Homo sapiens: one gene and its partners. The protein of the gene in region 4 interacts with the protein of the main gene of each other region in a biochemical or structural test. Each region holds a gene or a part of one and is shown on either strand. Other genes may lie near its edges. The genes, in order: KIF24, PTPRD, PPP1R2 and NEK2.

What was found.
Region 1: of the proteins of NEK2 (region 4) and KIF24, one has a biochemical effect on the other in vitro, tested with the Homo sapiens proteins (one study listed by IntAct).
Region 2: the proteins of NEK2 (region 4) and PTPRD form a complex in vitro, tested with the Homo sapiens proteins (one study listed by BioGRID and IntAct).
Region 3: the proteins of NEK2 (region 4) and PPP1R2 form a complex in vitro, tested with the Homo sapiens proteins (one study listed by BioGRID).

Annotation. Positions count from the first base shown.
Region 1 is NC_000009.12:34,304,723-34,313,130, forward strand, and holds part of KIF24 (kinesin-like protein KIF24), read right to left. Parts: intron 7,185-8,408; exon of another isoform or gene 7,128-7,184; intron 6,650-7,127; coding exon of another isoform or gene 6,625-6,649; coding exon 6,002-6,624; intron 1,720-6,001; coding exon 1,530-1,719; intron 1-1,529. UniProt on the Homo sapiens protein: Microtubule-dependent motor protein that acts as a negative regulator of ciliogenesis by mediating recruitment of CCP110 to mother centriole in cycling cells, leading to restrict nucleation of cilia at centrioles.
Region 2 is NC_000009.12:8,516,462-8,524,869, forward strand, and holds part of PTPRD (receptor-type tyrosine-protein phosphatase delta isoform 1 precursor), read right to left. Parts: intron 7,064-8,408; coding exon 7,052-7,063; intron 5,086-7,051; coding exon 4,816-5,085; intron 1,969-4,815; coding exon 1,387-1,968; intron 1-1,386.
Region 3 is NC_000003.12:195,525,335-195,533,742, forward strand, and holds part of PPP1R2 (protein phosphatase inhibitor 2), read right to left. Parts: intron 4,568-8,408; coding exon 4,460-4,567; intron 2,569-4,459; coding exon of another isoform or gene 2,424-2,568; intron 1-2,423. UniProt on the Homo sapiens protein: Inhibitor of protein-phosphatase 1.
Region 4 is NC_000001.11:211,661,436-211,666,193, forward strand, and holds the end of NEK2 (serine/threonine-protein kinase Nek2), read right to left. Parts: intron 2,218-4,758; coding exon 1,991-2,217; 3' UTR 1,337-1,990; downstream 1-1,336. UniProt on the Homo sapiens protein: Protein kinase which is involved in the control of centrosome separation and bipolar spindle formation in mitotic cells and chromatin condensation in meiotic cells.

The DNA of each region.
Region 1 (8,408 bases), on a different chromosome or scaffold from region 4:
AGTGGATTACTCTGAATATCTCTGTGAAACACAATTTTGGTAACCAAAGAAAAAGAAGAACAATACAAGTTTGAAAAAGGGTGAAAGTGTTAACAAATCACTTCAGCATTAAAGGATTTATTCCACTAATGTAAGATCTCAGCTGACTAAGGTGAATTGCTAGCATACCAGATTTTTTTTTCTTCCTACCAGTCACTGGGTTTTGAGGCAAGAGAACAAGAGAGAGAGAAAGAATAAATATAATATGAATGTTTAGGGAAGTAGATTCAGAGTAAGAGAAACTGTGTACTCTCAAATCTTAACATCCAATGGATTATCTGGTTTTAGATTACTCACAATTTTTCACAATTTTAGGAGTACCTAAATGATGATTCTTTCCATCTGTGGAGTTTGCTGTTTCCCTATGAGACTAAAGAATTATTGCAAGGTACCTTCAGCTTGGAATAAGTTTCTTTCAATACCAAACTCTTTCTCCTTGGACTCTTCATAATCACTCTAGCAGGCAGTGAACATTATTTACATGGCTGAGTTATTAGTGTTTTATTTAAACCCTTATATGTTAGATGTGAAATCATATCTCTGGATTTTATTTACCCACTGCAATCTACCCTGTATAAAGTGGTCTGCTCAGAGCCCAATTTTCGCCAATTAAGTATAAGCCCAAGACAGCTGAGAATCAAAATAAGCACGTGGCTGGCAATTGTCGGTCCTGTTGCCCAAAAAGATATTGTCCATCATTAAACCCAAGTCTCAAAGTCAGCAGAATGAGAAGTTCACACTGTGAGATGCAAGCAAGAATGGAAATCAACTGTGTGACATCTCATAGTCATATATTCAGTGACTGGTCCTGTTGACAACTACTTAATTATTTATTTGTTTTTTATTTTTATATTCTTTTAGAGGCAGATCCTCCCTCTGTTGCCCAGGCTGGAGTGCAGTGGTGCAATCATAGCTCACTGTAATGCAGAACTCCTGGGCTCAAGTGATCCTCCTGCCTCAGCCTCCTGAGTAGTTAAGACTACAGGTACACACCACCATGCTGGGCTAGTTTTAAGATCTTTTCTGGAGAGACAGGATCTCGCTATGGTGCCCAGGGTGGTCTCAAACTCTTGGGCTCAAGTGATCCTCCCACTGCAGCCTCCCAAAGCACTGGGATTATAGGCGTGAGCCACCACACCTGGCCCCACTTCATTATTTAAATTATTTTTATTCCTTCATTCCTCCTTTTTTTTGCTGAATATGTATAATTAAATTCACACAAAGCATGTTAAGTGAATATATGATGTAGCTCCACTGCACAAGAGAAATTGTTTTTGTATCCCCTATTGCACCGTCTTTTGAAAAAATGAAGGCCCTGGATATCAATGACTTAATACAGTGTCACATCAGGAATGAATGTCAACACCCGAACCAGAAACTTGATTTTCAGTGTTCTAACAGAAACTTGTATGCCACCACTCAAACAAAAAGCAAAAAAAAATGACATACTTGATAATATTAGTTCCAAACATAAAACGAAAACATCATACCTGCAGAATATATTGAGTGAGGTCAACTGCTTCTTTCTTCTCATGCACAAGTAGAGTTTCTTTGTCTTCTACAGTAATAATATTAATTTCTCCACGACGTACCTCCCTCATGCCCAGGGGGCGTTTTCGAACACAAACTCTGATTTTCTCCATCTCAGTCCAAGGATTCTGTTTCTCTGAAGTGTTCTGTCTAATATGTTTATAAACAGGCTTTTAATTTTTAATAATAGGACAAGATTACTTAACAGGTCAAAGTATTGGTACCTTTTAGCCGGGCGCGGTGGCTTACGCCTGTAATCCCAGCACTTTGAGAGGCCGAGGTGGGCGGATCACGATGTCAGGAGATCAAGACCATCCTGGCTAACACGGTGAAACCCCATCTCTACTAAAAATACAAAAAATTAGCCAGGCATAGTGGCGTGCGCCTGTAATCCCAGCTACTTGGGAGGCTGAGGCAGGAGAATGGCGTGAACCCGGGAGGCAGAGCTTGCAGTGAGCCGAGATTGCGCCACTGCACTCCAGCCTGGGCGACAGAGCCAGATTCTGTCTCAAAAAAAAAAAAAGTATTGGTACATTTTGCTGTATATTAGGCATAATATATTTCTTAAAGTTACAAAGTAAAGTGTCAACCCTGAGAAAGTTCTTCTATCTCCATCCCCACCCTGCTCCGCCCTTTTCCTTGCAAAAACACAAATAACAGAACAACAACAAAAAACCAACCAACAAACAAAAAACCCCTAAGAGATCATATATAGAATACTATTTTATACAATTGTTTCATATCAATTCTGATTTCCTTAGCCCTCCAACTGGCTGCTGAAAAAAAATTTTTTTTGAGATAGGATCTCACTCTGTCACCCAGACTGGAGTACAGTGGCACAGCCATGGCTCATTGCAGCCTCAACCTCCAGGGTTCAAGAAATTCTACCTCAGCCTCCTAAGTAGCTAGGACTATAGCATACAACACCGCAGCTGGCTAATTTTTGTAATTTTTGTAGGGACAGGGTCCCACTATCTTGCCCAGGCTGGTCTTCAACTTATGGCCTCAAGCAATCCTCCCATTTTGGCCTGTCAAAGTGCTGGGATTACAAGCATCAGTCATCACGCTCAGCCTGGAGAATAATTTTTTTACTGGGATCTGAATTGGTTTAAAAAAAAAAAAACCAGCAAATAATTTTCTAATATAATGAATGCATAAAGCACTAATTTTATGGCATGTTTTAAAGCAAATTTTATTTTCTTAACCAACATTTAGGGACTTTAAAATGCATCATTTTTGCATGAAACTGCAGATGGAATAAATAAATGACAGAATAAATGAAATGTACCATTTTGAGGTACTGTGGGAAAATCGTGACAATCATTGAAACTGGATGACGGGCCAGGTGCGGTGGCTCACGCCTGTAATCCTAGCACTTCGAGAGGCTGAGGCGGGCAGATCACTTGAGGTCAGGAGTTCGAGACCAGCCTGGCCAACATGGTGAAACCCCATCTCTACTAAAAATATAAAACTTAGCTGGGCATGCTCACTTAAACCCAGGAGGTGGAGTTCACAGGTGAGATAGTGCCATTGCATTCCAGCCTGGGCAACAGAGCAAGACTCTGTCTGAAAAAAAAAAAAAAAAAAAGAAAAAAGAAAAAGAAATTGGATGATGGACATATTGGGATTCAGTGTTCTATTTTTTTCTTCTTTTGCATATGTTTGATTTTTCACAAGAAAAGGGAATTTTTTGTTTTGAGACAGGGTCTTGCTCTATCACCCAGACTGGAGTGCAGTGGTGCGAGCATAGCTCACTGAAGCCTCAACCTCCTGGGCTGAAGCCATCCTCCCACTTCAGCCAATAGTAGCTGGAACTACAGGTGCACACCATCATGTCTGGCTAATTTTTGTATTTTTGTAGAAACAGGGTCTCACCATGTTGCCCAGGCTGGCCTCGAACTCCTGGGCTCAAGCAATCTGCCTGCCTTGGCCTCCCAAAATGCCAGGATTGCAGGCATGAGCCACTGTGCTCATCAAAAATGAAAATTTTTAATGCTTTTTTTTTTTTTTGAGACAGAGTTTCATTGTGTCACCCAGGCTGGAGTGCAGTGGCACAATCTTGGCTCACTGCAACCTCTGCCTCCTGGGTTCAAGCGATTTTCCTACCTCAGCCTCTAGAATAGCTGGGACTGCAGGCACCTGCCATGACGCTCTGCTAATTTTTGTATTTTTAGTAGAGATGGGGTTTAGCCATGTTGGCCAGGCTGACCTTGAACTCCTGACCTCAGGTGATCCACCCGCCTTGGCCTCCCAAAGTGCTGGGATTAGAGGTGTGAGCCACTGTGCCTGGCCTAATGCATCATTTTAATAAGGGTTTTGTGTTAAAATCTTTAGTTGTTGGATATCAATAACCTAATCATATAAAGCTGATCAAAGAGGATAGAAAATGTTTGGTCCTTTTTAAAATTGTTCAGGGCTCTAGGATGACTCATATGAACAAAAGGCCCATAGTTTCAAGTTCAAGGAGCAAAAAGACATGCATGTTTTTTTAAAAAGCTCTAGTTTGGGCAGGGCAGAGTGGCTCTCACCTGTAATCCCAGTGCTTTGGGAAGCTGAGGTGGGAGGATCACTTGAGGCCAGGAGTTCAAGACCAGCCTGGGTAACATAGTGAGATCCCCAACTCTACAAAAAATTGAAAAATTAGCTGGGGACAGTGGTGCATACCTGTAGTCCTAGCTACTTGGGTGGCTGAGGCAGGAGGATCACTTGACCTCAGGAGTTTGAGGCCCCAGTGGACTATGACTGCACCACTGCACTCCAGCCTGGGTGACAGAGCAAGACCCTGTCTCTACAAATCAAACAAACAAACAAATAAACAAAAGAGTCAAATAAATGAAATGGTAATGGTTAAACTAAAATATCCATCCTATCCTTGATGGTGTTAAATAAAGTGGTATTTTTACTTATAAGTAATTCCAATTTAGATTTTTATGTACTGTTCAGTAAAAAAGTAATATTCAAGAAAATAGGCCAGGCGTGGTGGCTCACGCCTGTAATCCCAGCATTTTGGGAGGCTGAGGCGGGTGGATCACAAGGTCAGGAGATCAAGACCATCCTGGCTAACATGGTGAAACCCCACCTCTACTAAAAATACAAAAAATTAGCCAGGCATAGTGGCGGGCGCCTGTAGTCCCAGCTACTCGGAAGGCTGAGGCAGGAGAATGGCATGAACCCGGGAGGCGGAGCTTGCAGTGAGCAGAGATTGCACCACTGCACTCCAGCCTGGGCGACAGTGCGAGACTCCGTCTCAAAAAAAAAAAAAAAAAAAAGAAAATATTTACTCCTTCACCGCTGAGGTAACCAATGCAATAGCAACAATCTGCCTTCATAGTCAAGGAACAATCTATTCCTCTCAGAATTAAAAGAAGAAAACAGTATTACATGCTCTGTGATCTCCTAGACCAAACAAAATGTTTTCAGAAATATTATAATAAAAATTCACTTATGTATTTCAAATTATTAAAGATATTTTTACTGTTAAAACTGAGTCTTCTATTTTTATGGAGTAAAATAACTGATTATGAGATCTTCTGAAACCTTAGCCAATGTAAGACCAGATATAAATTCTTTATCTTAAGGTATGAATAACAGTATTTTTAAAAAGAAAATATGGCTCAAGAATGAATTTTGTTTGCCCATAACTCACATATATAATGTTTAAAATAAAACAAGGAGTACTTTTTTTTTTTTTTTACAAGATTAAAAGAACATATTTCCTATTATACCATTGTTAGTACTAGGGATTACTTGTTATTTCACCTCTTAGGGACCTTATTTCAAATTCTAACTCGAAGCACTAGGTGAAAATAACTTATTGTCACCCTGACTCTCAAACTCTCATCTCCACCAACAATGTCTTACTGTTTGTAATCACCAAAATTATCTGTTTTTTCCGGGGTTGAAATTGTAGAAAGCACTCAAAATTAGGATCATATTTCAATGTGTGTAGGTGAACTAACTGCCCCAAAGACCTACTTAATTAAACTACATGCCCTTGTTTTTTAACAAAGCATCTTTAAGTCTCCTGGTTGGGTTAAGTGAATTTGATAACCTTAAAAAAGTCCTGTGGATTGTGTAATTTTTTTCTCCACTGTAGAAGGGTTAACTATTTCACTTTCACAGATGTACTAGATGTATCATGTTACGCTATAATAAACAATAGAAACAGATCTGCTACAGATCCTGGCAAGTAGCAGCTGTTCTGATGTACATGAACAATATCATCTTTCTCCCACCTAGAAAGTCCCAATTTCTCATTAATTTTCCCACATCCAGGTATTCCTATTATTGATGCAAATGCTGTTCATGATAATTTCTGTTATATTCATTTACTATAAATAAGGAGTAGATGCTGTCTGCTGGACATGAAGGAGAGGCCTGCCCTTGCCTGAGGCTACTTTCCCTCAAAAGAAAGAAAGATAAAATTTATTACCTGATACAAGAATGAGGGATTCCATAGTTATACCCTGAAACATGAGAGATTCTTTGAATAATGGGAATATCACAATCCCCCAGTATTGCAGAAAGGTAATTTGGTGAAAAGAGTGAAGTGCTGATTTCTGTTTGCACATAGGAATCACCAGCTGTGGCATTCAGAATTCCTGTTTTTGTATGGTACTGGGAATCATCTGGTAGCATGTGTTCTAGCACTTTTAGGTAAGTGGACTTCTGTTCATTTGCAGAGAAATCTGATAAACTGCACATTTCAAACCCATCATTGCTGGCATTTCTGTCTTTATTGTCAGCAGGAGAATCAAAATTCAGCTGTCTGCGAGGGCCAGATCTTAATTCCTGAGATTTGATGCGCAGGCTGCTTGTCTGAAGATGACGCTCTGGGATACTGACTGCTTTATCTTCTTCTTGCATAATCTTAATAATTTTGATAAGTTGGAAGAGACGTTTGCGGTCGTTCATGTCATGGACTCCTAATTTGGAGTAGTCCTTCATTGTAATCTTGGCTAATTCATCTATTTTCTGAAGGCCAAGGGCAGTGAAATGAGAATAATACTGTGCAAGTTCAGCTTCACAAAGACATTCATATAACCAGGATGCCATTTTGGTGAATAGGTTTCTATAAACTCTGAAGAGAGAAAGAAAAGCCATTCGCTTGAAATAGAGTACATGTAATACAATTATTTATTTTAAAAATTGAAAACCACAAAACCACAAAACAAACATGCAAAAAATGTTTTATCTGTCAAGTTCTCAATAACATATTTTTCTTCTGAAATTATTGATTAAATAGCATAGTGCATGAACAAAGATGCTTTGTATTGCATATGAAGAATTTGTGGTAACATATAATTTGTTAATTTGCTTAATAAAAAGAGACATTCCATTTTACATATGTGTATATATACGTGTATATACATATATACGTGTATATGTATATATATACGTATATATGTACATATATACGTATATATGTATATACACGTATATATATACATATATACGTATATATGTGTATATATACATATATATACACATATATATACACACACATATATATATACACATAGATACACAAATGAACACATACATAACACATAACTTACTTATTTCTAGGGAGTTCCTTCCAACCTTGCAATGTCTACTTAACACATGCCACAACTATTGAAACCTTGTTCCCAACAACTGATTGTAGCAGGACTAATTTTAGATGCTCAACTTAATGTCAAGGCATGCTGCACAACTGTTTCCCATGAATAATGAACAGGGGCTAAGAACTCTTTCAGAATGAAAAGCAGAATTAAATGGCATACCACAGAGGATTATAAACTAATGTAACTCAAAGGAAGATAGCATTTGCATTTGCTGAGTACTGGCAAAAGTTAGTTAAATAGAAGTAAAGACATCATCAATTCAGCATCAGCCAATTCAGGATTTCAGATCATTCCAAAAGGTGGTCATCGATCTCTACCTGTACAGAATATGAATCAAATAATTTGCCCAGGAAATTAATACTAAGGTCAAGATTTTAAATAGTTGTATCTTTTAAAAAATTTTAATATCAAGATATTTAATTAAATACTAACAAATAATGTGGTAATAACACATAATCCTGGTCTATTATTAAAAGTCAGGATCCTGAGCTCTCTATATCACTGTTAATCAAGTTCATGAGAATATCCAAAAGTAAATACAGTACATTTTCTTTTTTAAAATGGTTTCATAATTCAGAGTTTTCAAAAATTCAGTTAGGTAACTAGTGGTACAACTTTCCTGTTTTCGTTTTAATTTCTATTTCATCTTCTTTCTAGCAGAAACAGAGAAAGAGGTGAGGGCAAGGTAATAAAGATAACCAAAGAACGTTGAATAATTAGCTTTGGGGGAAATACTACTTAGGCTAAAAGGCTAAATGGGCTGAGTAACACATCCTAAACTAATCCTGGCCTTCTATTTGTGGTAGATTTGTTTTTTTTGAGATGGAGTTTCACTCTGTTGCCCAGGCTGGAGTGCAGTGGTGGTATCTTGGCTCACTGCAACTTCCGCCTCCAGGTTCAAGCAATTCTCCTGTCTCAGCCTCCTGAGTAGCTAGGATTCACAGGTGCGTGCCACCACACCCGGCTAATTTTTGTATTTTTAGTAGAGAAGGAGTTTCGCCATGTTGGCCAGGCTGGTCTCGAACTCCTGACCTCAGGTGATCCACCCACCTCAGCCTCGCAAAGTGCTGGGATTACAGGCGTGAGCCACCACACTGGCTGGTAGATTTGTTTTGTGAAGGCAGATTTGTTTTTTAAAGACCAAAAATTTTTTGCAGGTCCTTCCATGAAGAAGTGAAGTCTATTTCTTCCCTCATTTCATCTAGGCTAGCCTTGTGACTTGTTTTGCCCAAT
Region 2 (8,408 bases), on a different chromosome or scaffold from region 4:
ATGTGCTCTGAGATTCCTAGAAGCAAGGACAAATAGTTAAACATACTTCATATAAAGACCATGCCATGAAAACAAGTCAGTGATTCACAGGTATCAGTGAAATAGATGATAGGTACATTATCTAGTACTGGCATCTGAGAAAATTTATTAATTCATTGCCAGGATTAGCAATGAGTTATGTCTACAGATTATACTGTCTCCAATAATATGATTATTATGTAGATTTCAAAACAAGCCAACAGCATGATGCCAAAACATTCGTAGATTAATGCAGGTTTAAAAGATGCCAACACAATAAGGAGTCAAAGAAGTAGCTCTCAGATGCTCAAGAATAAACTTTTTTTTTTTTTTTTTTTTTTTTTGAGATGGAGTCTTGCTGTCACCCAGGCTGGAGTGTAGTGGTACAATCTTAGCTCACTGCAAACTTGCAAACTCCATCTCCCAGGTTCAAGTGATTCTCCTGCCTCAGCCTCCTGAGTAGCAGGAATTACAGGTGCCTGCTACCATGCCCAGCTAATTTTTGTATTTTTAATAGAGATGAGGTTTTGCCATTGGCCAGGCTGGTCTCAAAGTCCTGACCCTCAAGTGATCCACCTACCTCCCAAAAGTGTTGGGATTACAGGCGTGAGCCACTGTGCGTGGCTCAAGAATAAACTTTAGAAGAGGCCTGTTATTTTATATTAGCCCAAAGCCAAACTGATCACCTTGACTCAAAGACCAAAGAGGTTTGATAACCTCTTAGAAAAATAAAACCACTGGGAGGGCCAAGTTTTCCTTCATAAAATAGTCTAATGTCTGCTGTAGCTCTTAGCAAAGTTAATCAATCAGGCCCAATGTTCTATCTGAGATCTCGGTAACTGTCTCTCTTTATCCACTGAGGCCATACAGAGAAAAACAGAAATTAAAGCCACTCAGAGAATACTTATTTTCAAGCCAGTAGCTTCTGGCAAATATAAGCCATTTAAATACCCAAGGCCCTGTAACAGTTTTATTTTTTAGCTTTGTCTTGAACCATCCAATCTTACACAAATTAAATACTCTTTTGAGACCACTCTACCATACTAGCTATTACAAAGAAGTGTCGTTTTTCTATTCTCAAAACTGGGCATGGGGGAGACATTGTTCTATCTCACATAGAGAAGTCTTCAAGTCATTCCCATACAAATTAAAAAGAAGGGGTGTTAATGCATTGTTCTGCTCAAAATGATTAGTTTTTCAGATGTCCATGCTTGTTCCTTTTCAGATATCTATCATCTGTTGCTTTGAAGCCCTAAATCTCAAAAATTAAAATTCATACCATCTTTGTTCCTTCTTTGTTTTTGTCCTTCTCACCTCTTTGCACCAGCCCTTCCCTCCTGCCCTATTTCCCTCCTCAACCAAACTTACCTCCTGTCTGAGTGATGACTTGTATGTCACTTGAAAGGGGACCATCTCCAATTGAGGTAAAAGCCAGGACTTTGACAGAATATGTTTTCTGGGGCACTAAGTTGCCAATAGTAGTGATTTGGCTGTCAGCTACATTGTGTTTCATCCAGTTGTTGACATGTTGAGTGGGATCCATTGTATAATAAACTCTATATCCTTGGATCTGTCCATTTGGCTCTTCAGGTTCCTTCCACTGTACCAAAATGGTGGTCGAACTCAACATTCGTGCCTGGACATCCCTCGGGGCACTGGATGGTGCTTGCTCTGAGGTTTGTGTTAGCACAGGTTCGCTGGGAGGCCCCCGCCCAATGTTATTGACAGCAACAACCCTGAATTCATAATCCGAGTAGGGACTTAGTCCAGCGACACTGTAGCGTGTGGTCGCCACCCCATCAATTTCTTTGTAAAGTTCCTCAGAGTTTTTAGGTTTATGCTGAATTATGTAATAAGAAACAGGCTCAGGGTTCCCAGAGTCCCACGTCAGTGTGATGCTTGTAGCTGTGCTCTCGGTCACTACAGGAGTTCCTGGAGGTTTGGGTAAGGCTTGGATGGGGGAAGATAAAAGACAATGACTACCCATCATCCCTATAATATTTCAAAAATCTATAAACTCTACTATGAAAATGACAGGATTATGTATCTACTGAAGATTTAATTAAATGAAATTATAGCAAAGAGTAGTTTTCTGAATGGCCAAGAAGGACAGGAAAACATTCATAGGTGACACAAATCCTGCTTTCCTAGAAGGGCTTGATAGCATATTTTTAGGCTTGTATCCAAATCCTCTACTTATTAGCTAAGTGATCCTGCACGCATTTCTTAACCTCTCTTTGCTTTAGTTTCCTCATGTGGAAATGGGAAAAATATTATTATTTAAGTCATATTATACAGCTGTATGTAACTGTATTTCATGGGTTTGCTGTGAAGACTAATGAGCCAATCCACTAAGATTCTTAGAATGTAACTGGAACCCACAAAAAAACCTTAGTATTAGCTGCAGTTATTACTATTATTATACCAAAAGCTTGGCCAATTAGCCCCTTGCCCCAATAAATAAATGGTATAACTGAAATACCGATAAACATTGAAAAGAACAAAATGTGGAATACATTGAAATGAAATTAAATTGCGATGAAACAATAACATCTATATTCTGGTAAGACACAATACCATTACTAAAAATTTTCTTGTAAATGAAAAACCAAAAATTTTAAGGTGCAAAAGAATAGAAATTTCAAATCAATGCTTTATTCTTAATATTTAAAAATTGCTGAAGGAAGTAAATTAAGGCACATTCACCAATCACTTTTTAAGGTATGTTATGGTCATATTAATATGCATTCTATATTCCACATCAGAAATATCCAATGTAGCTACATGACAAATATTTGCAATAAAATCCATCTTTTTAGAGGTCTAATTCTTTCTTTTTAGCAGAAGAATACAAATCAAAATACTACTAATTAAAAATATAAACTGTCTGCTTTGCTGACCTCATATTCAAGTGCCTTATTCTAAACAATGATTCTGAAACGCAGTGCTATTAGGGTAGGAAGGGGCATTCTAATAGTTGACTCTTTAGAGAAATCTCAAAGGGTAACATTCATATAATCAGCCCATTAGTGTCCCTGTTTCCTTGCCAACATAAAGGCAAGAAGTATAACACCCCCTAGAATGGCAGCTTTTCAAGAGCAGCAAACTTGTACTTCTGACTTACTGTAAAATTGTGAATGCCTAGAATGCTGCCTGGCACTCGGTAGGTTTTTAATGAGAATCGTTAAACAGTTAACTGAATAAATGAGTCAGCACCCATTCACCTCATTCTCTTCAACCTGTTCTTTTGTTTTGATTTATTTTAATTTGCCATTAAGATTCACTCTTATGTTTTATTTGTTTATTTTTGAGGTGGAAAAGACAGGGAAGTGGCAAGAGTCAGGAAAACAAAGATGAGAAGGTGAACAAAATATTAGTTTAAAGTGGCCCCTGCTTTTGAATTCTTAAAGGTCTTCAGCAAGCCTTCAAATATTTAAAGCTGAAATGGTAATTATAAAAAAGGTGATTCAATATTTACACACTACTCAAAGAACTACAGAATGATAGTATTTTGTCAAGGGAATTTACTGAAAATAATAATAAAATGAAATTTGTTTAAATATTCTGACCTGGCATTTTTCAAGGCTGTGTGTGCTCCAGATTTCCCCTACATGTCTTTCTGAACTTTCAAAGCAAATACAAATATTGCTAATTAAAGCTGTGCTCACTGATATTTAGCTGACATTATTAGTTTCACTAAGTCACATTTATTGTACAGTACAGGTTTTATGTCTGTAATGTACGGATAAATACATGTGTGCTTATTATATTAAGGTTACACAATATAACATTATTTCACGATTGTAAATGTTGACAATGTGTACCTTTGTTCTCATGTCATTAGTTTTATATAGCATATATTTGATATATACGCTTGGTTAGAGATGCGATACCAATTATAACGTGTATTGCATTTTCTAAGATCACCCCCTAGAATGGCAGCTTTTCAAGAGTAGCAAACTTGTACTTCTTACTTGCTGCTGAATTCCAAATGCCTACAACATTGCCTAGGAAAAGAAGATAATTTGTGTTCATTTTGCAATAGTTCTAGCCATCTGCAGAAAACTTAAGTTGCCCTATGTCTGACTCAATTTGCAAACACTTTCTAGAATTCTATAAACACTAGGGGAAAAAAAAACGGTACCCTTACATGCTTGTACTCTTTCTCTTTAGTTCAAAAATATTCATGTAATATAGTACTTTGGTTATATTTAGTCTGTTTTTTAAAGGAAAGAATATTCCTTGAGCACTCATCTATGCAAGGTGAAAGATAAAACTACAACAGAATATACTCTTACTTGCCTTTTGATTTTTAATAGTAGGGCTCACCAAAAAGTTAAATCATCTATTACTAGACTATGTTGATTTCAACTTTTTTTTTCTTCTTTTTCCTTTGTATTTAGAAATTTTAAGCATTTATTAATGCTCATATTGACTTTTCTTGGGGTTCTTATCAAGGTTCTGGTCTAGTATGTAGACTGTACACATCAGTCCCACCATAATGGTCGACCATGTGTAAAATTCCTAGTTCTGTCTGGTTAGTGCCTGGGCCTCCATGGACTGTCTTTTAATATTCTGATGATTATCTCTACATAGGCTGCCAGATACTTCCAAGAAAAAATCCGCCTATCTAGGCTTATGCATGTTATATAATACCACAGATATGATTAGGTTATACACACATTTAAAATGCTGAATAATGAATTATTTTAGATTTTCAAGGATGGGCTTTCTAGAGGCATTAGTCACTTGGCTTGAGTGTACCCAGATCCTCAAAGCATAATCCATTGAGCATACCTTTGACAGTGATCTGTGCTATTGCTTCAATGACACCCAGTGTTGACATAGCAACACAGGTGTAATTTGCTGACTGTCTTACATCATTCAGTTCTAGCACATTTCTTCCTATTGGCATATCATCTTCAGGTGTCAGATCTTCTGCCCCCAACATCCACTTTACATAAGGCATTGGTGACCCCACGGCCACACAGGTGATATTAACGCTTCCGCCTGGCATGATTTCATGATTAGTGGGTGGGATAGAGAATCTTGGTGGGACACGGCGAACTGGAACAAAACACAAGGGAAATGATAACATATACAAGGCAAGAAAAAGTGGATTATTAAACACATGACATGCACCGTACAGACACGATTCAACAATTGAAACATTGTGGATTGTCCAAAAACAAAACATAAAGAAAAACTGTGGATAATACAGACCATACAAGTATGGTGTGTGTATACACAGAATTATTTATTTAGTTTAGTCATTGATATCTTAGACACACTAATACAAAAGTTGATTCAGACCTACAAGGGCCCCACAAAAAACTATCTACAAACTAACAATACACAAACATCATGCATAAGATAAACACAAAAACATATACATGCAGGCATATAACAATGATTCTATGCAGGCATGTATATGCAGAAAAGGGGGCTGGAAGGTCACCAGCATGTTTAAGTTGAGTATCAAAACCAACTTCAGTGCTGTGCACTTCCAGTTGATGTGAATGTAGGTGTGGGACCACACTGTCACATCCCAGCCCTGGAAAACATCACCTAGAGTACACTGAAAGTGCACTTTATGTTTTCAGATTCATAGTGGATGCAGCCTCAAGACCTCACACTAACACTGGAACAAACACAGAAATGTATATACATATTGATTTACAGTCACAGAAGAAGAAACAGGCTAACACCAGTAGAGATACTGGATTGGGTCATGCAAGGCATGCACAAGATGGAATCTCAAGGCCCGTGCTAAGGATATTGAAAGAATGGCTGGAATCCAAGACAGCAATGACCGCAGAAGAAATAAGGGGGCAATAGAAATAAACGTGAAAGGGGGAGGTAAAGTATAACGATTGAAACACAGGGACTTAGGGGATGACAGGGTTGAAAGACAGAAGATTAAGCTCAAGTTGTTAAAGGTAAGGATTGCAAATTCAGAAAGGGAGCTGGGTGTTTCACATACAGGATTCCATTCAATTCATATCAAAGGTAAAACAACATAAATGACAACAAAATCTTTTAAAAGGCTTTTTATGCCCACATTCAAATTGAGGGACACTGGATCTAAAACATACAGCAGGACATGACATTAAGAGAAGAGATCATATTAAAGCAACATAACACAGAAAAATTACCAAGCAATTTCAGTTCAGTGTTCCTGCTTCAGATAATCTGCAGGTTTATGTGTGTTTAAGTAAATGTGTTTTGGATGTGATACAAGGAGAAAGTGAAAGATAAATTGGTTTCATCTGGGGCTTTTACTGGCAAAATGTCATACCATAAGAATTTGAGATCTAGAGGGTAATCTTTAGGGAGCACACCTTAAATACATTTAATAAAGATTTTTTAAAAATTATAAATAAACTGATAAGTAACCTCATAACCCCAAGAAGAAGATAAGTAATTCTGTCTGAAAACTTTTTGGCTGCTCTTAAGGTCGAGATAAACCTCCGCTTATTTGAGATGGCTCACTGCAATGGCCTCATGGGTGAATGACAGTCATAGGAGAAGAAGAGAAAGCTAAGCATGCCTCCTGCAGCCAATTCACAGAGGTTACACAAAGCAAGCAGGAGCCAGTGTAGACTCTGAGGTATCAAAGAACATATCAAGAAAAATGGAGGAGAGTTTAGTCTTCATGCTTGGGATTAGGGGAGAAACTAGAAAAAGTCATTCTATGGGCAGCAGGCATCCTTATAAGACAGAAATTAAAGGCAGGGTGGGAGATGGGGACAGTGGAGCAGGAAGGAAAGCAGGAACACTGACCAAGTTCACTGGACCTTACAGAGTTAAGTGTTACCAGTTACCATGCACCCAGGTACATTCTCTCCCACCATGCACCACAGTTAGATACCACCAGCAAGCACCAGAAGCCATGGCCAGGGCATTCTCTGCTAAAACATACCATTAACCAAAAGAAGAACACAATGCAGCTACATTCATTTCATTTGTATTCTTTGTTATTGGTTTAATTAATAGTTTTGTAAGGTGGGTAAAAAGTAAAAAACACACCAACCTTCTCGCAGCTCTGAGGGATGTAGGGGGTTTGATGCAGAACACAATGAAATGAGGAAAGGAGAAAAACAAGGGAAACACAGAGAGAGTAAAAAGGCCATATCAAGGCTTTCAACTGCTACTTGAACATCTTTATTCGCTCTAGTTCATCCTTCCTATCTCAGCTGGAAAAGTTAGCAATATCTCACAGACTAACATGGTATTAGAAACAATAGCTAGCATCATTTTGAAATTTTCCATGGAAGAAGGTACACATGCCTCATGCAGCAAGGGAGGTCACTATTGTGGAAAAAGGATCAAGGGACTTTCGAAGAATTTAGAGAAGAAATGACTTTCTTCATATTTCCCCACCCCAGACTCCATAAAAAAAGAAAGGAGAGAAAAACATCCCCAGGGAAACAAAATTACCTCTAACAAAAATTTCAAAATCAAGCTAGGTATTTTCTTAAGGGAACCCATCCTATTGTAACTTAAAGCCCTCTCAGTCTTTTCTTTAATCCCACCCCCACCCATGCCTTTGTGGTTATTCACAGATATGTAGACCAGGAATAAGAACACTTCCACTGGATAAAAAAAACTACAGGAACTGGCTTTGAGAACTCTCGGGAAGAGGAAGTACTTCTTTCTAGTTGAATGGAAAGGCATAGCCATTCATAAGCTCACAGTTTAATCATTTCTATTACTTCATGAGAACATATGAATGTATCCTCATAATTCATTCTTGTCTCAAGGACAACTCACATTACTATTTAAAATACAGTTTTCCATTGCAATCAAAAAACTAAATGTTTCGGTAAGTCTTAATAATTCAAACAAAAAGGTGTACATATGTGCACATATATGAATACACATGTATATATAATACTATGTGTTTATAATTAAGAAAGTATACGAAGACAGAAATGCAACTGTGCTATTTGCATGTAGCACTTGTTTTATAGAGTTAGCAGCTTTATCCTTACAGTTTCAGCAGCAGGGGTCATGAAGACATAAACACCTTTATGCTTGGAATTGCACAGAGAACTGATTAGTAGCACACCAAGCAATTATTTCAGGGGTTTAATAAGGAAACAGAAGAGAAACAACAGAAAAAAAGAGAAAGAAAAAGAAGAAAACCTCAAACAAATGCAAAGCACAGTTCAATCAATACAGTAAAAATAGAAACCAAGATGTAAAAATGCAAATATACTTACAAACTCCAAGCCTCAGGACAGATTATACTCAAGAGTTGTCTTTTGGAGTTAAACAACACATTTTAAATTTTTAACTTTTCTATTTACTAACATGTTTCAGCTACGGTCACTATTACCAAACCAGCTTGTTAACTACTAATATAACAACACGGACCCTGCGGCGTC
Region 3 (8,408 bases), on a different chromosome or scaffold from region 4:
GAGGATGTGCATAATTATATACATCTACAATGCCATTTTATATCAGAGACTTGAGTGTCTGAGGATTTCGGTATCTGAGGGAGGTCCTGAAACCTCCATGGATAATGAGGAATAACTGTACTGAAAACGTAAATGATCTGGAAAAAAAAATACTACAAAGTTCCAATTATTCCATCCAGTGGGAAGGAACAAGTAATGCAAAGTAAATCACTGTCTGGTTTTAGAACATGTATTTCTACATCAATCTTAAGATAGAGACAAAAGATCTACGCAGACACAAGACTGAGTAAAGTAACAAAATTCGATCCCAAAGATCTAATTTCGGAAGTTTACAAGTGATTTAGCTTTCTCACTCTACCCTCTAATGAAAAATTTGCTCCCCACTTCAATGCAAAAATGGGCAACCTTAATTCTTAAGCCACTGCAAAGTATATAAAGCAGAACTCAGCTATTTATAAAATACTGCCAGTTTATACATTTCCTGGTTAATTAAGGTGACAAGTAAGTCTATAGTTTAGATGACGTTCTTTTTTCTAAGGGAAGTTGAAATTGATCTATGTTATTGAGTTTAATCAAGCAAAGTAAGGTAAAATAAACATTTTGTTAATTTATAGAATCGTTCTATAGAAAATTCTAGTTGTAAAATTTACTGAATTATGTTTATATATGTACATGTATACAGAAGCAATAACTTCTTGTATACTAACTGTGAGATTCTTAGATAATAAGACATGATGTTTCTATAAAAAGCATCTTCACTTAAATAAAATTTTTTTTTTTTTTGAGACAGGGTCTCATTCTGTCACCCAGGAGTACAGTGGCACCATCACGGCTCACTACAGCCTCAATTTCCCGGGCTCAAGTGATACTCCCACCTAAGCCTCTTGTGTAGCTGGGACTACAGGCATGTGCTACCATTCCTGGCTTAATTCTTTTTATTTTTTGTAGAGACGGGGTCTCTCTATGTTGCCCAGGCTCATCTCCAATTCCTGAGCTCAAGCAATCCTCCCACCTCAGCCTCCTAAAGTGCTGGGATTACAAGGATGAGCTACCATGGCTGGCCAAATGAAACTCTCAAAAAGAAAAAAGAAAGTCATGGAAAGAAATGATAAAACTGAGCAGTGAACTGATAAAAGCAGGACACAGGTTATCTCTGCATGCACATAGCCTCAATTACTTAGGGACCAAATAACTTTTCTGGTTATTTGAATGGCAAATATCTACCATTCAAATTATATTTATAAACAGTCAAAAAATAATGGCCATAGCTATTCTGAAATTTTTTTTCTTTTTCTTTAGAGATAAGGTCTCCCTCTGTCATCCAGGCTGGAGTGCAATGACGTGATCATGGCTAATTGCAGCTACAACCTCCAGGGCTCAGACAGTCCTCCTGCCTCAGCCTCCTAGCTAGCTGGGACTACAAGTACACACCACCACCTCTGGATAATTTTACTTTTTTTATTTGAGACAGAGTTTCGCTCTGGTTGCCCAGGCTGGAGTGCAATGGCGCGATCTCAGCTCACTGCAACCTCTGCCTCCCAGGTTCAAGTGATTCTCCTGCCTCAGCCTCCCGAGTAGCTGGGGTTATAGGCGCCCACCACCACATCTGGGAATTTTTATGTATTTTCAGTAGAGACGGGGTTTCACCATGTTGGCTAGGCTGGTCTTGAACTCCTGACCTTAGGTGATCCACCCGCCTCAGGCTCCCAAAGTGCTGGGATTACAGGCGTGAGCTGCTGTGCTTAGTCTAATTTGTTTTAATTTTTTTTGTGGAGATAAGAGTCTCACTCTGTTGCCCAGGTTGGTCTTGAACTCCTGGGCAAGAGTTCTTTGGGGAAGGGCGTGGTGGCTCATGCCTGTAATCCCACACTTTGGGAGGCTGAGGTGGGTGGATCACTTGAGGTCAGGAGTTTGAGATCAGCTTGGCCAACACGGTGAAACCCTGTCAATACTAAAAATACAAAAACTAGCCAGGCGTGGTAGTGGGTGCCTGTAATCCCAGCTACTTGGGAGGCTGAGGCACGAGAATCTCTTGAACCTGAGACATGGAGCTTGCAGTGAGCTGAGATCGTGCCACTGCTCTCCAGCCCGGGTGACAGAGTGAGACTCTGTCTCAAAAAAATAAAAAATAAAAAATAAAAAACAGCATTCTTTGGGAGGCTAAGCGATCCTCCTGCTTCAGGCTCCCAAAGTGCTGAGATTACAGGCGTTGAGCCACTGCACCTGGCCTCAACTATTTTTTTAAATCATGTCTGATCTTAATTCTCCTAGGATACTTATCCCCAACTAACACAAGTGAGTGACGGATGGCCACTACATTTAGTAAAAAGAAAGTACACTCTGATTTTGGATTCTGGTACAATAAAGGTTTTAATATACATTTTAGAAGTTGGGCACGGTGATGTGTGCCCATAGTCAGCTACCTGGGAGGCGGAGGAGGGAGGATCACTTGAGTCGGGAGTTCCAGGCTGTAGTGTGCTATAACTGTGCCTGTTAATAGCCACTGCACTGGGCAACATAGCCAGATCTTGTATCTTTTTTTTTTTTTAAGATTTTTAAAGTATATACCTGCAATTTAGGAGAAAAATAAGAATATAAACCTCTTTTTAGCATGCGTATTTTTTTTTAACTAATTGTAATTTTATTGTTTTTCTTCCCCTCAATTTATTTTTACTTCAATAGGTTTTTGGGAAACAAGTGGTGTTTGGTTACACAGGTAAGTTCTTCAGTGGTAATTGCTGAGATTTTGGTGCACCCATCACCCGAGCAGTGTACACGGCACCCAATGTGTAGTCTTTTATCCCTCAACCCCCTCTCACCCCTCCCATCCCCAAAGTCCACTGTATCATTCTTATGCCTTTGCTTAGCTCCCGCTTATAAGTGAGAACATACAAGGTCTGGTTTTCCATTCCTGGGTTACTTCACTTAGAGTAATGGTCTCCAACTCCATCCAGGTTGCTGTGAATGCCATTATTTTGTTCCTTTTTATATATATTCCATGGTACATACATATATACCACAAAAAACTGTGTATTTCTTCACTCAAATTTCATCAGTATTGAGTTTCAGCATCTGTACCTATTTCATTATTTCTTTTTATGCTCATCAGTCTTTAATATCTTCAAGTTTTTTATTTTTACTGTTTTTGTTAGTAACAGGTTATTTCAAATTATCTTCCAAAGTTTTCACCCACTGACTTAAAATACAGTAGTTCTTAACTCTTCTTTCACTACAGAACAAATGGAAACAGCAGTTACCTCTATTTTAATGGTAACTTTTGGATTTATGCTGTCTTAATTCAATGACAAAATATTTTAATCTTGGAAATCTTTTATTTTTTTCAATACAAGGTAGGTAGGGCATAACTATTTTTTTTTTTTTTTTTTTTTTTTTTTTTTGTAGAAAGAGTCTTACTATGTTGCTTAGGCTGGTTTTGATCTCCTGGCCTGAAGCAATACTCCCACCTCTGCCTCTGTAATCTCAAAGTGCTGGGAGTACAGGCAAGAGTCACCATGCCCAGCCAAGGTATTATCTTTTTTTTTTTTTTTTGAGACAGAGTTTTGCTCTTGTCGCCCAGGCTGGAGTGCAATGGTGTGATCTTGGCTTACAGCAACCTCCGTCTCCCGGGTTCAAGCAATTCTCCTGCCTCAGCCTCCCGAGTAGCTGGGATTACAGGTGCCCGCCACCATGCCTGGCTAATTTTTGTATTTTTTTTTTTTTTTAGTAGAGATGGGGTTTCACCACGTTGGCCGGGCTGGTCTTTCACCTCAGGTGATCCGCCCACTTTGGCCTCCCAAGGTGCTGGGATTACAGGCGTGAGCCACAGTGCTCGGCCCAAGGTATTATCTTAATTAGGTATCTATACCTATTTAGAATCCTCATCTTCTCATAATGCTTCTTGCATTATTTTTGTCTTCATACTGGTTACTGCTGCGTAATGTAATTTCACAATTCATTTAGGAAATTCTGAGACTTGAAATTGTCAAAAATTACATGTAATGATCTGAACAACAATATTACATTAAGTTAAAAAATGAAGACATAAACAGTAATAATGACACCTATCTTTCAGTGGGTTACCATCCATGCAGTTATGCTTCTCTGCAAAGAGACTGAGTAAACCCCAGATTTCTACTTGGGAAGCAAACAAGCCCATATCTCATCTTCCTTTCATGGAAGTTAAAACTAATATATGCACCATTAGTAGCTAGCAACCACTGAGGTGCAACAAATAAACATTTACTACTACCATTATAATGTACAAAATGGCTTTCTTAATTTTAAACTTACACATCACTTAAACCATTACTAAACAAATTGCAGTTAGGTTACTGACTTCACTAGTGCTCCAGTAACAAATCTACAATAAAACAAATTCAAATAGGCTGTTATCCAGACGTTCATATGAAATGCAAAATGGAAGTAAGTCACAAGAGGAATGACGTCTACGTAACATTACCTATGGTAAGGAGTGCTTGGTTCATCTATTTTCATTAAACCATAGTCTTTGTCTGCTGGATGATACGTCGCCAAGATGTTCATTTCATCCCACTTCTGGGATTTTTTGCTAAAATTAAAAAGAAAAAACGTTTTTCCCAATGCAGAAAAAGATAAACCTGAATATCAAAATTCACAAATGTCCAAATTTAACATTTCAACTTCTATTTGATGGCCAACCTCTATTTTCACATATACTTTCTTGGAATAGAAGCTGACTCAGGGTAAAAACCATTAAGTAACTACAATAAAATGTCAGTAAATATAGAACACCTAGTGCCCACATATTAAAAACACAATATTTAGTATCTATATCAGGCATTCAAAACATTACCATACTATGACATGCTTAGCCTTCATTTGGCCTATAAAATAATGCAAGTCAAAATCTATACATTCGCTGAAGTCAGTAGGCATTTTTGATCTATATATCAGTAACTGTTCGGTAAAAAACACAACAGGAGTACTTCCTTGGCATAATTTCTTTCTGGGATATCTGTTAACACTCAGAACATAAAGATTCAAACAATAAAACTATAGAGAAAACCTCATCAAACTCAGACACCACTAAATCATTAGATTGCAAATAAATTACAGCTCTGTTTATTTCTAATCTAGAAAAATAAAGGTTTGCTCAGAAATGGTGTATTCAAACCTACTTGAAGAGCAATAGACGTTCTCTCTAAGTACTTTATTATTTTTGTTTTGTTTTGAGACGGAGTCTCACTCTGTTGCCCAGGCTGGAGTACAGTGGCGCCATCTCGGCTCACTGCAACTTCCACCTTCCCTGTTCATGCGCTTCCCCTGTCTCAGCCTCCCGAGTAGCTGGGATGACAGGCGCGCACCACCACGCCCAGCTAATTTTTGTATTTTTAGGAGAGACAGGGTTTCACCATGTTGGCCAGGCTGGTCTTGAACTCCTGATCTCGTGATCTGCCTGCCTTGGCCTCCCAAAGTGCTGGGATTACAGGTGTGAGCCACCAGGCCGGGCCATTATTTTTGTTTTTTGAGACAGAGTTTTGCTCTTGTCGCCCAGGCTGGAGTGCAATGGCACGATCTCGGCTCACTGCAACCTCTGCCTCCTGGGTTCAAGCGATTCTCCTGCCTCAGCCTCCTGAGTAGCTGGGATTAAAGGTGTCTGCCACCACACCTGGCTAATTTTTGTATTTTTGGTAGAGACGGGGTTTCACCATGTTGGCCAGGCTGGTCTTGAACTCCTGACCTTACGTGATCTGCCTGCCTGGGCCTCCCAAACTGCTGGGATTCCAGGAGTGAGCCACCGTGCCTGGCCTATAAGTACTTTAGAAACATCTGTTAAATTTCATGCAATGAAGTATTTGCACAACTATTAAGGTGCTCGATAATTAAATGCTTTCATTTTAAATGCTTACATACTCCTTAAAAAAGACCTCAAAGACCTTTCTACAAGCCAACATTATTTTGTTACATATAGTTTGTTACTTAGTATGTACTTGGAAAAACCTGCCTTAAAAAGAATCAATGTAAATGTTACACTGATTTAAATAATGCTTTCCACATTTGGTCTAAATTGTTAAGGTTTTACTGCAGGTATTTTCAATTTCCCAGATCCTGAAATACCCTTTAAGAATAACATACTCAACATTTTAATAACATATTCCCTTTTCCATACTCTCAAAATGGTTTGATGAGTTACCTTAAAAATTATACAGGCCTACTCTTGCAGGTGACTTCGTATTCTTTTGCTTTCTACCCTAATATACCCACAGTGTCCCCATTTCGGACTAAGCACTTTTTTTCTTCATTTTTTAAAATTGTGGTAAAACATACATAAAATTCACCATTTTAACCTTTTTGTTTTTTGGTTAATCTTCCCTGTATCATTCCAATTTTAGTGCACGTGCTCCTGAAGTAAGCACTAGCCATTACGAAGTGTACAATTCTATGGCATTAAGAACATCACATCATTGTGCAAGCATCACCACCATTCATCTCCAGAACTTTTTCATCTTCCCCAACTGAAACTGTACTCATTAAGTACTAACTCCCCACTCTCCCCAGCCCCTAGACCTGGCAACCACCATTCTACTTCTATCTCTAGAAATGTGACCACTCTAGGTACCTCGCAGAAGCGAAATCATGAAGTATTTGTCCTTTTGTGACTGGCGTATCTCACTAAGCATAATGTCTTCAAGGTTCATTCATATTGTAGCATGTGTCAGAATGTCTCTCTTTTTTTAAGAGACTGGGTCTCTGTCACCCCAGGCTAGAGTAAAGTGGCATGATCATAGTTCACTGCAGTCTCGAACTCCTGGACTCAAGTGATCCTCCTGCCTCAGCCTCCTGACTAGGTGGGACCACAGGTACGCACCACCATGCCCAGCTAATTTTTCTTTTTCTTTTTCTTTTTTTTTTTTTTTTTTTACAGGTGGAGTCTTGCTATGTTGTCAGGCTGGTATCAAACTCCTGGCCTCAAGCAATTCCCCTGCCTCAGCCTCCCAAAGTACTGGAATTACAGGTATGAGCCACCACACCTGGCCATAATCAAATTAATATGTCCTTAGTATTTGAAAAAAGTCACCTGCCAGGAGTGGGACTGTGTAATTTTTAAGGGAACTCATCACACTCTTCTGGGACTGAACTAGACTGGGTAAACAGAGCTTGCTTTAACAATACCGATGTCTTCAGATGCCTAGGCTTCTGCCTGTCACATAGTTGAGCTTGTGGCAGAAAACAAAAAACAAATTTAACCGGGAGACAGACACTGAAGGTTCAAGTTTCAGTTACCCTTTACTATAGAGAAGCCAAAAAAAAATCTTCTCTTGGACTCTATTTATAGTTGACCCTTGAATATTATGAGTTTGAACTGTGTGGGTCCACTTATATGCGGATTTTTTTTCAACAAATCTACTGGAAATTTTTTTGGAGGCTTGTGACAATTTGAAGAAACTCAGATAAACCACATAGCCCAGAAATATTTAAAAAAACCTTAAAAGTTAGTTATGTCATAAGTGCATTATACATAGAGAATAGTCTACTTTATCATTTACTACCATAAAATATTCACAAGCCTAGTTAAAATGTAACGTTAAAATTTATCAAAACATGCACATACAACACATGGTGTTGGATCTGCAGTTGGATCATAACTGCATAAAATTAACTACAGTACATACTATTCTATGTCACAGTTTCACAGCTATCTCTTGTTGCTACTGCAGTCTCCTCAAGTGTTGCAAGTTTGCTTAAAATGCTCTATGATGCGGCCAGGCACGTCTGTAATCCCAGCACTTTGGGAGGCTGAGGCAGGTGGATCACTTGAGGTTAGGCGCTCGAGACCAGCCTAGCCAACATGGTGAAACCCCGTCTCTACCAAAAATACAAAAAAATTAGGCATGGTGGCTTGCGCTTGTAGTCCTAGCTACTCAGGAGGCTGATGCAGAAGAATCACTTGAACCCGGGAGGCAGGGGTTGCAGTGAGCAGAGATCATGCCACTGCACTCCAGCCTGGGCAACAGAGTAAGACTCTGCCTCAGGAAAAAAAAAAAAAAAAGCTCTATGATGCTAGTTGTTTCAGTGTGAGTAGTTTGTTGCTCCAGTAAATTGCCTGTTGCAATAAAAAGTGATCTGTCTTGGTTTTTGAGTATTTTTTATCCTATTTAGTGCAATATTGTAAACCTTGAGTAACACCATGGGAGTCATACAAAATGCCACTAGAGATGCTGGAAGCATTCCCAAGAAGCAAAGTTGTGACATTACAAGAAAAAGTAGAACGCTTGATGAGTACCTTAGATGGAGCTCTGCAACTGCGGCTGCCCATCATTTAAACATGAATCCACCATAAAGACCATTGTAAAAATAAAATCAAATAAAAGGAAATTCACAAAGCTGTCACTGCAGTAGCGATACCAGCATGAAAACCTTGCATATTT
Region 4 (4,758 bases):
ATCACACCTAATTCCAAATCTGTTGTTATGGTTTGGGGATTCAATCGAAAGCTATTTTCTTCTGCAAAGTGCAGCAAATCTTCAAATAATTGTTTAAATGACTAGATAAGTTCTAGAATCTTCAGAACCAACAGGGGCATGAATCATGTATAGTTGATAAAAACCAGTAGGGATAGTTTTGAAAGTGCCGTCCACTAGCCAAAATGAAAACATGCGATAGTTTTTCTGTTAGATTTAGTGGTAAATATAAGCAGTCTATCTTCTTCGACAGTCAAATCCCTAACCAAGAACAGTTTGGTTAATGAGTTTTGTAACACTGGAGGAACCTCAGTATCAGCAAGTGTCTTTGGTTCACAAGGTCGTTCAGCTTGTCGAATTTTATTCTCTGACAAAGGGCATTTTTTTAAGGCAAGCGTGGCACTATTCATGAAGGAGCAGAATTTGTACATAACTGAATAATTTGGCAGGAGAGATTTCTTGTACTTTTCACCTGAAAAGTCGCTTTTATGATCTTCAAAACACTAAACATTGAGGAAAGATATTCCCCACCTAGTCTACTGAGACTCACATATTAACCTCCTCTGGAAACACCCTCACAGACACATCTAAAATAATGCTTTACCAGATTTCTAGGGATTCCTTAATCCAGTCAAGTTGACACATAAATCAACAAGTTCACCCCTTATCAACTCGATATCCATCCACATCTCTTAAACCATACTTAATTTCCAAATGAAGACAATAACAAGGTAATAGTTCTGCCTAACATGATGCAATTATCCTGTATACAGCTGAAACGGCACTAATCCCTAACCTCAAATTCGGCTTTCAGGATTTTAACATCTGGGATTTTAATCTTTCAGGATTGTGATTTTGGAAGTTCACACATTAGGGATTCTGATCTTTTGGGATTTAAGACATTAGGGATTTTGGTCTTTCAGGATTTTCGCATTTGAGATTGTATCATTCAGGATTATGATCCAAACCCATGGACATTTTGTTGTCAGCAGCTGTCCTGTGCATTGTAAAATGTTTACAGTGTCCCTGGCCTGTACCCACTAGCAGCCAGTAGCACCCTACCCCAAATCATGACAATCAAAAATGCCCCCAGACATTGCCAAACGTCTCTTGAGGAGCAAAATCACCCTGTTAAGGACCACTGGCTTACATACATGGATTAATGAGATGGGAGGTAAAGCGCCATACAGTTTAGGACTGGAATGCCACTCCCTTGAGCATCAGATCCATGTTTCCTTCTGTACCCTACAATGAAGACCTACAAATCATAAACACAACTCCCATCAACTAAGAGACCAACAAATGCAAGACACATAACTACAGGGAAACTGAAGAATTCTTTTATTTAGTGGGAAAGAAGTAGGTAAATGACAGACAGCTCATATTCTGTTAAACAGAAAAAAAAAAAGAATACAAACATCACAGTGATGAATTTTCACAAAGCTAACAGATTTGAACTACAGAGCAATGGAATATTTATAAGCAAGATGTCATGGTATTAATGACCAAATTGCATCTAACTGGGTTTTCTAAGCTCAAAAACATTTAAAATCTCAGACTTAAAATTTAAATCTAGACATGACAATTGTAAGCATACCACTCAGTCATTTAAAACTATTCAGTGAGTGCTACTCTTCCTGCATAAATATTTTTTTCCTAACATTATTTTTTCTCCCAAGATTTAGAATGTCACATCTCATGTTCCTACTAGTAATCACACACAGGATTAAAAGCCCAACCAAGAAAGTATTCTTTTTATAATATGTTCTTAAAAGAAGAAAGAAAAATTAAATGTGAACATTTTGTACAATAGTTGCTGAAGAACAGTAAAACCAATTCCGAAATATCATGTGTACTATACAGAAAGGCATGGCTCATGGAACCAAGTATTCAACACTACAGCATTTGAATATCAGTCTTTAAAGGTTGGTAATATTACATCCTGTACACAGCTCTGTGTCTCTCTACCTGGCTAGCGCATGCCCAGGATCTGTCTGCTTTTCAGTTGGTAATTTTTCTCAATATCTGACAGGGCTTGAGCCCGCAGCTGGGCAGCGTGAAGCCTTTTCTTCAGGTCCTTGCACTTGGACTTAGATGTGAGCTGACTCTCAGAATTCTCACTCCTCATGATGTTCTCTTTACTTTCCCCACTGAAATGAACTTTCTTCTTAATTACTGAGGATGGAAGATTAAGAAGTTCTTTAGAAGGAAAAAGAAAAAGGGCTCTGAGTTACTTGAACAGAGTTCAACTCCTTCATACTTATACTTATCAAAAAGTATTTGCTCTTATGGCTCACATTTGAAATCTAGGTGCCTGTTTTATTTTCTCTGGGATAGGAGGTTAGGGGTGTAGGACTTGCAGAAATCAGCCTTTTAATCCACAGCATTGAAAAAATAATATTGGAATGTGCCAAAATTCAAGGAACATAAGTTTTATTCTCTTAACAACCAACAATCAATTTTACTCTTAAACACACTGAGTATTATGGACAACATAAAACTTTTGGAAATCAATGTTATTTATCTCTGTCCTTGAAAATAAGTGCCATTCTATGCAGAACACCTTACCTACAGAAAAGTGTAGAAGCAGAGGTTTTTTTCTGTCTTTGTTTTTTTTTTTTTTTTTAAATAGAGAACACCTACAGTTTTGGTTAAATGTTCAAGAACACTTAGTTCAAAGCATCTTAATGGACGAGAAATCTGTTTCCAAAAAATCTAAACAAATTCAGTGTGGAAAAGGTAAATCAAGTAAGAGTAGTAAAAACTGTAAACTATTCTTTACATGGAAAAAATAAATAATAATCATATTTACTTAAAGTGGCAACACTATTAACTGCTGACAGAATTACTGGGGGCTGGAGGCTTACAGATTCTAGAATCCTTTTATTTTTTGTGTTAAAGGAAATATGTTCGAATATTTACTGAGCTCATAGGATGGGCCACTGTGAACCAAACAAAGGCCCTATTCTAGTAGGAGGAGATAAACCAAACACAAACAAACAAGTACTGGTGGGGAATATTTGATGGTAATACGTGCTATTAGGAAAAATAGCTCTGGAAACAGGGACATGCTGGGTGCTGGGTGCTGGGTGTAATGATACAAAGCCTCATACAGCATTTCTGAAGTAAGAAGCCACAGGGCTGTCTGGATGAAGAGTGCTCCAGGCAGAAGAAATAGGAAAGGCTGGCACACAGATGCACTGCCTTCCAAGGGTCCTGTGACTTCCCGCTTCATACGTCGCTTCTGCTTCAAAGCAAACTGGATTGCTTTTAGACCTTATCTCCACTGTTTCAACTCTATCCACCTTCTTATTACCACAAATACCTTTACATTTGTAAGTCAACATTGTCTTACTAATGGGATAGTTTTATTTTGTTTTTGTTTTTGTCTGAGATGGGGTCTTGCCATGTTTTCCAGGCTGGAGTGCAGTGGCTAGTCACAGGTGCAGCTGTAGTGCACTACAGCCTTGGACGCCTCGGCTTAAGTGATCTTCCTGCCTGAGCCCCAGAGTAGCTGGGACTATAGGTGCGTCACCACACTTGGCTCTTAATGGGACAGTTTTATAAGAAAGAAAGTGTTTTAAAAACATTTTTAAAATTCTTCCATTAAATAGAAGAATGAATATTTCATCAAATACGAAAAGAACAGCTTTTAAAAAAGACACTGCTGCTTGCTGTGATGATTTCAATATACTTGTGATGGCTTCCTCACGTGTGGATTTTATAGCCCAAGGATGGGGAGAGAATATTTCCAACTGTCCTGAGTTCAGAATGGTACCCGCTCCCCACTGCTATGATGCTTATCTTATAGCTCTGATGTGTTCACTACTTTCAGCACTCAATACCCTAAAATGTCTGCTTGCCCCAGTGGATACTTGATTCCTATGGCTCATTTTAAATATTTGCCATGATTCACATATAAGTAGATTCCCATACTTATCTGTGTATCCTATAAAGTAAAACACATCATCCTTACTTAGCTATTTTCATCTTTTGCTCAAAGACTATCAGGGCAAATGTAAATAAACTCTTTAACCGAACAGCCATCCCCAACAGGGTCTTAAGTAATTCTCTGCAATGGGTTTGATGCATGAAATTCATCCAGGTAAAATTTTCTCCTCATTTTATCACCCTAATCATGATTTAAGTCTATTTTGTCTTTATGGATGACAGTGTGGAATCTATGAAAAGCCAGAATAAATATTTTTATAATATTGAAATGGTAGACTGCAATATTGGGAAAAAAGAAGGTATTTTAACAGAGATGAAGCCAAAGTTTCATATAATCCTTGTTTCATTTACTTCTATCAGTAGTTTCATTTCTTTCCATCACTTATTCACTACAAAGTTATTGTGATCATCAATCTAACTTAAGTAGGGTTTTTTGTCTGTTCCATTTACAAAATGCTGCCAATGCTCACTAAATTGATCACACTACATCTCAATTTATTAAAGATGGGAATAATAGCTTTCATATATGCTGTCCTACATGGAATAAGGGAGTTATAAAAACTCTAAATTTTATTGAAAATTCAGATGCTCGATTTTTGAAACCAACAACTTTTAACAGTTAGTTTGTGTCATAAATCAAGCAAAAAGATGTTTCACAGTTTGCATTTTACATAATCTTAAAGAGTCGATTAAATTAGATTGAGGGTTTCTATAAAATGGAGAATGTTAGACAATGGTTCACTGGTATATACGATAACCACATCTCAGTGCGGCAGAGTGAAGGGACAA